Regions from separate parts of the Homo sapiens genome. Here region 1 is linked to region 2. Evidence: fine-mapped expression QTL. A gene starts in region 2. The other region holds a variant in brackets. All regions are shown on one strand. Distances are from middle to middle. Region 1 overlaps DEPDC5 (DEP domain containing 5, GATOR1 subcomplex subunit). Region 2 holds the start of DEPDC5 (DEP domain containing 5, GATOR1 subcomplex subunit).

The links. PIP is the estimated chance that this variant, and not a neighbour inherited with it, causes the effect.
Region 1: its variant is fine-mapped to the expression of DEPDC5 in whole blood (TOPMed, PIP above 0.99). The same link has a PIP of 0.9 or more in blood mononuclear cells.

What each region holds. Positions count from the first base shown.
Region 1 is chr22:31,813,465-31,817,856 of GRCh38, forward strand. DEPDC5 (DEP domain containing 5, GATOR1 subcomplex subunit) reads left to right here. Exons shown (of 43, transcript NM_001242896.3): 21 at 1,528-1,748. It also overlaps the pseudogene RPL17P52. Among named protein-coding and RNA genes, the nearest start is that of DEPDC5, 62 kb to the left of the region's middle. The variant A/C (reference allele first, on the strand shown) is at 1,962.
Region 2 is chr22:31,752,002-31,756,393 of GRCh38, forward strand. DEPDC5 (DEP domain containing 5, GATOR1 subcomplex subunit) reads left to right here and starts at 2,018. Exons shown (of 43, transcript NM_001242896.3): 1 at 2,018-2,163; 2 at 2,861-2,978. The coding sequence starts at 2,921. RefSeq lists a silencer at 1,783-2,092.

The DNA of each region.
Region 1 (4,392 bases), 61 kb after region 2:
CTTGGAATCTGTTTTCAGGCTCCGTTTAAGCTCTTACTAAAAAAATCCTTCCAGGAGGAAAGGGAGCAGCTCTGATGCCAGAAGGGCAGCCCCGTTGGTGGGCTTGCTTTTTCGTTCTGAGCTTTTGCTTCTCTATAGGGCTTCTTTCTTTTTGATCCTTCTTCCTGTTGCTTTTAGAGGTTTTCCCCTTAGGGAATTTTATGTTTTAATAAGGCTATATATATATATATATATATGCATATATAAACTTTTATTAGGAAATGTTCAGACGTGCTCAAATAGAGAATAGTATCATGAACAGTTATCACCATGTTGTCAGCCTTGTTTCATGACCTCTCCCACGTTTAAATTTTGGATGGAATATTTTAAAAACAAATCCCAGGATTGGCCGGGCACAGTGGCTCACACCTGTAATCCCAGCACTTTGGGAGGCCAAGGCAGGTGGATCACTTGAGTTCAGGAGTTTGAGACCAGGCTGACCAACGTGGTGAAACCCCGTCTCTACTAAAAATACGAAAAAAGTACCCAGGCGTGGTGGTGGGCGTCTGTAATCTCAGCTACTTGGGAGGCTGAGGCAGGAAAATCACTTGAACCCAGGATGTGGAGGCTGCAGTGAGCTGAGATCATGCCACTGCACTCCAGTCTGGGTGACAGAGTGAGACTCCGTCTCACAAAAACAAACAAACAAAACAAACCCCAGGCAGCCTCTATTTTTTTTCAATAATACATACTTCAGCGTAAGTTTCTTTCTTTTTTTACATGTTATTTATTTATTTAGTGTCACCCAGCCTGGCACAAAGCTGATTAGTATATGTTTCAACAAATAAGAACTAAAAGAAAACCCATCACGGTACCATTATCATTGGTAACAAAATTAACACTAATCCCTAAATGCCCTCTAATAGCCAGTGCATAGTCAGTTTTTTGAATTGCCTCAAAAATGTGCTTTTGCAGTTAGTTTGAAATGGGACCTAAACAAGATCCACTTTTTGCATTTGGTTATAATGCCTTTTGTGTGTGTGTGTGACAGTAGAATGTCTTGCTTTCTACATTTGGCTGATTGTTGCCTTGTAGTGTTTCAGTTTTCCTCTATTCTGCAGATTCCCTGTAAACTGGCAATTATCTCTGGAAGCTTGATTAGATTTAGATTCAAATTTGAGGGCAAGTAGACTTCTTGGGCACTATGTTCTTTCTCCCACATCACATCATACCTCTCTTCTCATTCTGTTTTTAGTGATGAGAGATTAATCAGTGGGATTAGGTGGGGTCAGCCTGGAGCAGTCCTTTCTTTACAACTATGATCCTAGGACTTTGGCTGCATAATGTCTGTCATTTCCCCCCTCTCTTATATAACATCTCAAGCTGTTAAGGGTGAAGTACCGCATACAGGTTTCCCACTTGTAGATCACACTGGGGATTTTTGTTATTGGGTTCCATGTGGCTTGGGCTGGTGATGGGTTTTAGTTTTAACTCAAGGTAGGACAGCATCCCTCGCTTGATGGTAACTTTTTGTCTCTTGCCTGGCAGATCTGTGCGAGAGCGAGAGAGTCACAGTCGAAAGAGTGCCAGCTCCTGTGATGTTTCATCCAGCCCTTCCCTACCAAGCCGCACACTGCCCACTGAGGAAGTGAGGAGCCAGGCTTCTGACGACAGCTCCCTAGGCAAGAGTGCCAACATCCTGATGATCCCACACCCCCACCTGCACCAGTATGAAGTCAGCAGCTCCTTGGGATACACCAGCACTCGAGGTAAGAGTGCTGAAGCACAGACAGAGCCAGGGACATCTTTCTTAATATAGTGGGTGACTGGAGGTGGGAGGATTGGTCAGAGGTGGGGTGTAAATCCCACATCTTAATGATTTCTTTGCCAGTGCAGTAGGTACAAATCACTTTAGCTGTTAGCTATGTATATATTATACTTCTTTTTTTTTTTTTTTTTTTTTTGGTGACAGAGCACCTAGG[A/C]TAAAGTGCAGTGATGCAATCACAGCTCACCTCAGTGCGGCCTTGAACTCCTGGACTCAATCGATCCTCCCACCTCTGCCTCCCAAGTAACTGGGACTATAGCATGCCACCACACCCAGCTGATTATCATATTTTTTTTTGTAGAGGTGGGGAAGTGCAGTGATGCAATCACAGCTCACCTCAGTGCGGCCTTGAACTCCTGGACTCAATTGATCCTCCCACTTCTGCCTCCCAAGTAACTGGGACTATAGCATGCCACCACACCCAGCTGATTATCATATTTTTTTTTGTAGAGGTGGGGTTTTACCATTCCCAGGCTGGTCTTGAACTCCTGGACTCGAGGGATCCACCCATTGGCCTCCAAAAGTGCTGAGATTACAGGCATGAACCAATGTTACCGCACCCTGCCTCTATTATACTATTTTTTGTTTAGCCTTTCTTCATCCATCATTTAACTGTATGCCTTTCCATATGTTAATGGAAAGCTTTTCTTAGGCCTAGGGTCAAAAGGGTTTATTTCCTTATGATTTCCATTTGTGCCATATATAAAACAACCTCTGTCTTAATGTTGCATTTTAGTTTCTCATTTACCGGTCGGGCGCAGTGGCTCACACCTGTAATTCCAGCACTTTGGGAGGCCAAGGCGGGTGGATCACTTGAGGCCAGAAGTTTGAGACCAGCCTGGTCAACATGGTGAAACGCCGTCTCTACTCAAAATACAAAAATTAGCTAGGTGTGGTGGCGGGTGCCTGTAATCCCAGCTACTCAGGAGGCTGAGGCAGGAGAATCACTTGAACCTGGCAGGCGTAGTTGCAGTGAGCCGAGATTCCACCACTGCACTCCAGCCTGGGTGACAGAGGGAGACTCCACCTCAAAAAAAAAAAAACAAAAAACTTTTTTTTTCACTTACCTGTTTTTTTTTAACTTTTATTTGCATTGATTTTGTACCGAATTTATTCCCATACTATCAGTTTTTGTTTCTTCAGTTTCTTTCTTTTCTTTTTTTTTCTTTTCTTTTTTTCTGAGACAGAGTCTTGCTCTGTTGCCCGGGCTAGGGTACAGTGGCATGATCTCAGCTCACTGCAACCTCTGCCTCCTGGGTTCAAGTGATTCTCTTGCCTTAGCCTCCCAAGTAGCTGGGATTACAGGCACACACCACCACACCAGCTAATTTTTGTTTTTTTAGTAGAGATGGGGTTTTGCCGTGTTGGCCAGGCTGGTCTCAAACTCCTGGCCTCCAATGATCCACCCACCTCGGCCTCCCAAAGTGCTGGGATTACAGGCGTGAGCCACCATGCCTGGCCTTGGGATATCTTTTTCTTCTGTGCAATGTCCTCTTCTGGTTTAGGAATAATTTATTCCTTTTCCATGAGGATCATCTTGGTTTCGCAGGGGGAGCTCATGTATGGGTTAATCTGACCATGAGCTCTTTACATCAGGCAGCACATCTTGGGTGCTTTGTTCACCTGGACATGCTCAATGACCAGAGGATCTGCACCTGAACCCTTAAGTTCGGCATGACTGTGCATTTTTAAGCATATGTAGCAATAATTCAGTACTCTTTTTTGGCCACTGACCCCGTGTGCAGCCGTGCTGTGTGGCCTGGGACCACCTACTATCTCCATCATTGTAATGTGGAAATGGTACACATTGTTTCTGTAAAGTGACATATTTCTTTCTTTCTTTCTTTCTTTTTTTTTTGTGATGGAGTTTCACTCTTGTCCCCCAGGCTGGAGTGCAATGGCGTGATCTTGGCTCACTGCAACCTCTGCCTCCCGGGTTCAAGCAATTCTCTTGCCTCAGCCTCCCGAGTAGCTGTGATCACAGGTGCCTGCCACCATGCCTGGCTAATTTTTGTATTTTTAGTAGAGATGGGGTTTCACCATGTTGGTCAGGCTGGTCTCGAACTCCTGACCTCAGGTGATCTGCCCACCTCAGCCTCCCAAAGTGCTGGGATTACGGGCGTGAGCCACCTTGCCTGGCCAAAGTGACATCTTTCATATACTTGGTGGCTTTTTATATATGCATACCCTTGATGGCCTGAGCAGTTTCATGGGTGGTTTCTTTTATTTGTTTGTTTTGAGACAGGTTCTCACTCTGTTGCCCAGGCTGTAGTGCAGTGGTACAATATTGGCTCACTACAGCCTCAACCTCCTGGGCTCACGTGATCCTCCCACTTCAGCCTCCCAAATAGCTGGGACTACAGGTGTGCACCACCACACCCGGCTAGTTTTTAAAGTTTTTGTAGGGACGGTCTCAATCTGTTGCCCAGGCTGGTCTCGAACTCCTGGGCTCAAGTGATCCTTCCACCTTGGTCTCCCAAAGTGCTGGGATTACAGGAATAAGCTACTGTACCTGGCCTGTACTCATCTTTTTTTTTTTACTAGGTTTTTCTCTTTTATTTCCTTAATAACTAACTAGACTATGTTCT
Region 2 (4,392 bases):
TGGACATCTCTCAGGAGAAGGAATCAAATTCCCTTGAGGGCTAAGAAGAGAGAATCCTATTAGCTTCCCCAGGGATGGAAGAATGTCCCATCAACCACCATTGCTAAAGACAAAAACTATCTTGGGGGATCTAGGTGTATCTCCTGAAGTGGCAACATAGAAACATTTTTTAACATAACATTGTTATTCTTAAAAAATTTTGTAACTGTTGCAATCCACTGTATCACATATGTTTTATTACAAGATAAACAATTTCAGCCAGGAGTGGTGGCTTGGCCTGTAGTCCCAGTCCCTTGGGAGGCTGAGGCAGAAGAATCACTTGAGCCCAGAAAATTGAGGTTGCAGTGAGCTATGATAGAACCACTGCACTGCAGCCTTGGCAACAGAGCTAGACCTGGTCTTGGGGGAAAAAAAAGGCCCGGCTACAGTGATTGGTGCCTGTAATCCCAGAACTTTGGGAGGCCAAGGCGGACGGATTACTTGAGCTCTGGAGTTTGAGACCAGCCTGGGCCACATGGCAAAACCCCGTCTCTACAAAAAATACAAAAATTAGCTGAGCATGCACCTGTAATCCCAGCTACTAGGAGGCTGAGGTGGGAGGATCGCATGAGCCAGGCAGGCAGAGATGGCAGTGAGACGGGATCATGCCACTGCACTCCAGCCTGGGTGAGGGTGACCTCATCTCAAAACAAAAACAAAAAAACAAACAAACAAAAAAATTGCAATTACTTAACACTTGCATTATTTACCTAACTTCTCCTGAGTCCCAACATAAAGGCATCCATGCTTAAGAACGTTGCTTGTCCTGTCCCAGGGTCCCCTTGGTCCACTGCAGAATCTTTCACTACAGTGTAACATGTTTTTTCTTTCAACATTTTTAAGTTTTCCAAATCCGTAAGAAATGGGCACTGTTAGTATTAAAGATATAAAGAAATTTAAGACAAGTGCTGTGTCGTTTAGATTTAGCAGTCAGTGTGATTAGAAGCAGCAGAGGAGAGGCGTGACCCAAGACACCGATTCTAGTTATAAGGTCTCTCTGGCTTCAAGAGGGGAAGCAGGGAGTCCCTATCGAGTTGCTGCCGCTCAGGTCAGAAACGGTGGACTGGACTAGGGGGCGGGGGTATCAGTGGCAGCAGGCGGAGCTGGCAATTGTCAGGAGTCCTTGGCCAGAGCCTGACCCAGCCCACCCAGCTCTCTGGTTTTCTGCTTGGAGAGAAAGATATCCTGACAGACGCGAGTTTAGGCAGTGCCCTGGGTATGACCAAAGGATGTTGGTTAAAGGCCCCGTTCTGGGAACGGGTCAGGATTCGTCCTTGCTTCCTTCTGAAGGGTTTTGTGTCCTCAGGCTGTTTCCTGGTTTGTGAAATAGGATAGTATCTGCCTCCTGCATCCATCAGGTAATAGGGATGCAATGATTACATAAGGACTATGAAGCCACGGCAGCCATTCTTATTAATAACCTGAGGGGCGCAGAACGTCGTTTAGAGTTTGCAAGGGTTTGAAAAGCCCCCCGTAAGTGGACACTTCCCAGCAGAGGCCATCACCCTAACTCTCGCGTGCTCAGCCCCTTGCATTTTACAGAAGTCCTCCCAGAAACTCTCGTTGGCGCCTCTTAGCTGCCCAATGAGGCCACATGAGTCATTAACCTCGTTCATATAACAGAAAACGGAGCTCTGACGGATCTCGTTTCCCCTGTGGGGAGATCACTGAGTCGGAAACGAAGCTCTGTGGCCATGGATCTACTTCGGATAGACTAGGAGGAAATGGATTTCCTCCGTGGGGCGGGAGGCTCTAGTGCTCGAGGGCAGGAAACGCCAGGAGGTGGCCCAAGGAAGAGGCCGCACACGACGCCCCGCCCCCGGCTCGAGCCCCGGATGAGGAAGTGGTGCGGCCACCGAGACGAGACGGAGGCCCGGCGAGAGCGGCGCGGGGGCGCGAGGGCGGGAAGGAGGCGGGGCCCCGGGGCGGAGCCACCGGAGCGGCGCGGGTTCTCAGGTGAGCGCTACACGGTCGGGGCGGGCCTAGTAGGCGCTTCAGGCTTAGGGGCGGAACAGCGCGGGCCGCGCGGGCGTAGGCGGGGTATCTGGAGGAGGCGCAGGGAACCTGGAGAGGGTCCAGCCCTCAGTGCCCCGGCCAGAGGCGGGAAGGGGCTCTAGAGCTTCGGTGAGTGGAGCTGCCCGCCCCGGACTGGGGATTGGGGGGGCTTGAGATAGGGGACCTTGGCCCAGGTTCGAGTTCCAGGCTCCATCCCCATTCCGCTGTGTGACCTTGGACAAGTCTCTCTCCCTCTCTGAGCCTCAACGGCCTCAGCTGTGAAACGGAGTCAGGGAAGGTCTGCTGAGAGTTCGCACAGACCGAGGTTTGGGGAAGGAACTTCTGCCTTCCTCCTCTTTGTGGTTGCCTTGCTCAGGACATTGGCAGCAAAACGAGAATGGTGGGAGTGTCTCTTAAGTCTCGAGTGACCTTGAGCAAGTCCCTTGCCCGGAGTCACACTTTCATCATCTACAAAATGAGTGGGCTAACCTCTTTTAAGATCTCTTTACTATTTGGGTGTTATTGGTGTAGATGGAGACAAGGTGATGAGCACCCATTCAGCGCAATGCTTCCCCTATGGGGGTGTGATAGAATATCTTCTCCTAGGTTTGACTAGCCCCTGGCCCGAATTCCCCTTAGTTCCTGGATTCTGTGGTTCTATTTGTTCTCCATCGCTCCTTGTAACTGGAGGAGTGACTTCTTCCGAGAGTCACTTGGCACCACTTCACAGCAGAGGAACACCAGTATCTTCACTGGCCTAAAATCAAAGAGTGGTTGCAAGGAAAAATCTGACATTCCAACCTTTTCGTTTGTATTTCTGTGGCAGGGAGGCAAGATGACTTCTCTGCCCCAAGCTTGGAACAGCTAAAGGGAAAAACAGTGCAAGATGAGAACAACAAAGGTCTACAAACTCGTCATCCACAAGAAGGGCTTTGGGGGCAGTGGTCAGTATCGATTGGTCTTTAGAGGTTTTGTAAGTTGGCTGAGGTTCTGGTGTGTGCAATACCTAGAAATTACACACTGACTCGTGTGACAATTGAGGCTAAACAGGCGACTAAACAGACTAAAGCAGCAACTGTCATACAGTAACAATAGGAGGATGGCAGGACCCTTCTAATGCATTTGCATTCAGACTTTTAAGGAACATTGTGAATGCTGCCGGTTTACTACCCTTCATTTGTTGAATTGCATTATTAATTACAAATCTTCCGTGTATGTTCCATAAAATTCCAGCCTGCACTGGTTTGGCAGATAAGAGAAACTAAAATCGTTTATCAGTTTTTACATTGAGTGAGAGAGAAGTGGCATAGATGTGCATAGAGCAGGTATGATCAAAGCATGAACCTTTGCCTGGCTTGTAGGCATGGGAAGAAGGAGCAGGATACAGCATGTTATTCTGCACTGAGCTATAGTCTGAGTATCTACTCTGCTTCTAATTTTCCTGGTGACCTTGGGCAAGCTCCTAGTGTACCTTATCTGAAAGTTGAAGGGCTTTAGAATAGTTTCTCTTAACATCTATTTTTTTTCCTTTCTTTTCTTTTCTTTTTTTTTTTGGGACACGGTCCCCCATGTTGCCCAGGCTAGTCTGGAACTCTAGAGCTCAAAAGATCCTTCCACCTCAACCTCAACCTCCCTAATAGTTGGGATTACAGGCGTGAGCCACTGTACCCAGCTCTCCTTAGTGCCTTGAATCCATAAATCTGAAGAATAAAAGGGCACTTAGTATAATTTTTTTTTCTTTTGTAAGGGAATAATTTTCCATTCTGTCTTAACAGCATTATTTACTTCAGAAATTGGAGTTAACAATATAATGAATCTTTTTATTTTATTTTATTATTTATTGGCATTTTTTTTTTGAGACAGAGTCTCGCTCTGTCACCAGGCTGGAGTGCAGTGGCGTGATCTCAGCTCACTGCAACCTCCACCTCCCAGGTTCAAGCAATTCTTCTGCCTCAGCCTCCCGAGTAGCTGGGACTACAGGTGCATGCCGCCACACCTGGCTATTTTTTTTTTTTTTTTTTTGTATTTTAGTAGAGAGGGTTTCACCATGTTTCCCAGGCTGGTCTCGAACTCCTGAGCTCAGGCAATCCGCCCACCTTAGCCTCCCAAAGTGCTAGGATTACAGGCAAGAGCCACCGCGCTGGCATGAGTCTTTTTAACATTGTATTTTAGGGTGTATTTACTTCTACATTATGTAGGTATAAGCCTCCAGAGGGGAAGGACTGCCAAAAAGGGAAAACAATAGTTTCTCTATCATAGAGCATTGTGAGGCTTAAGTAAAGTGATACATGTAATGCATTTAGCAGAGTGTTAGACTCTGTGCTCAATAAATGTAGCCATTGTAATTACCAGGCTACA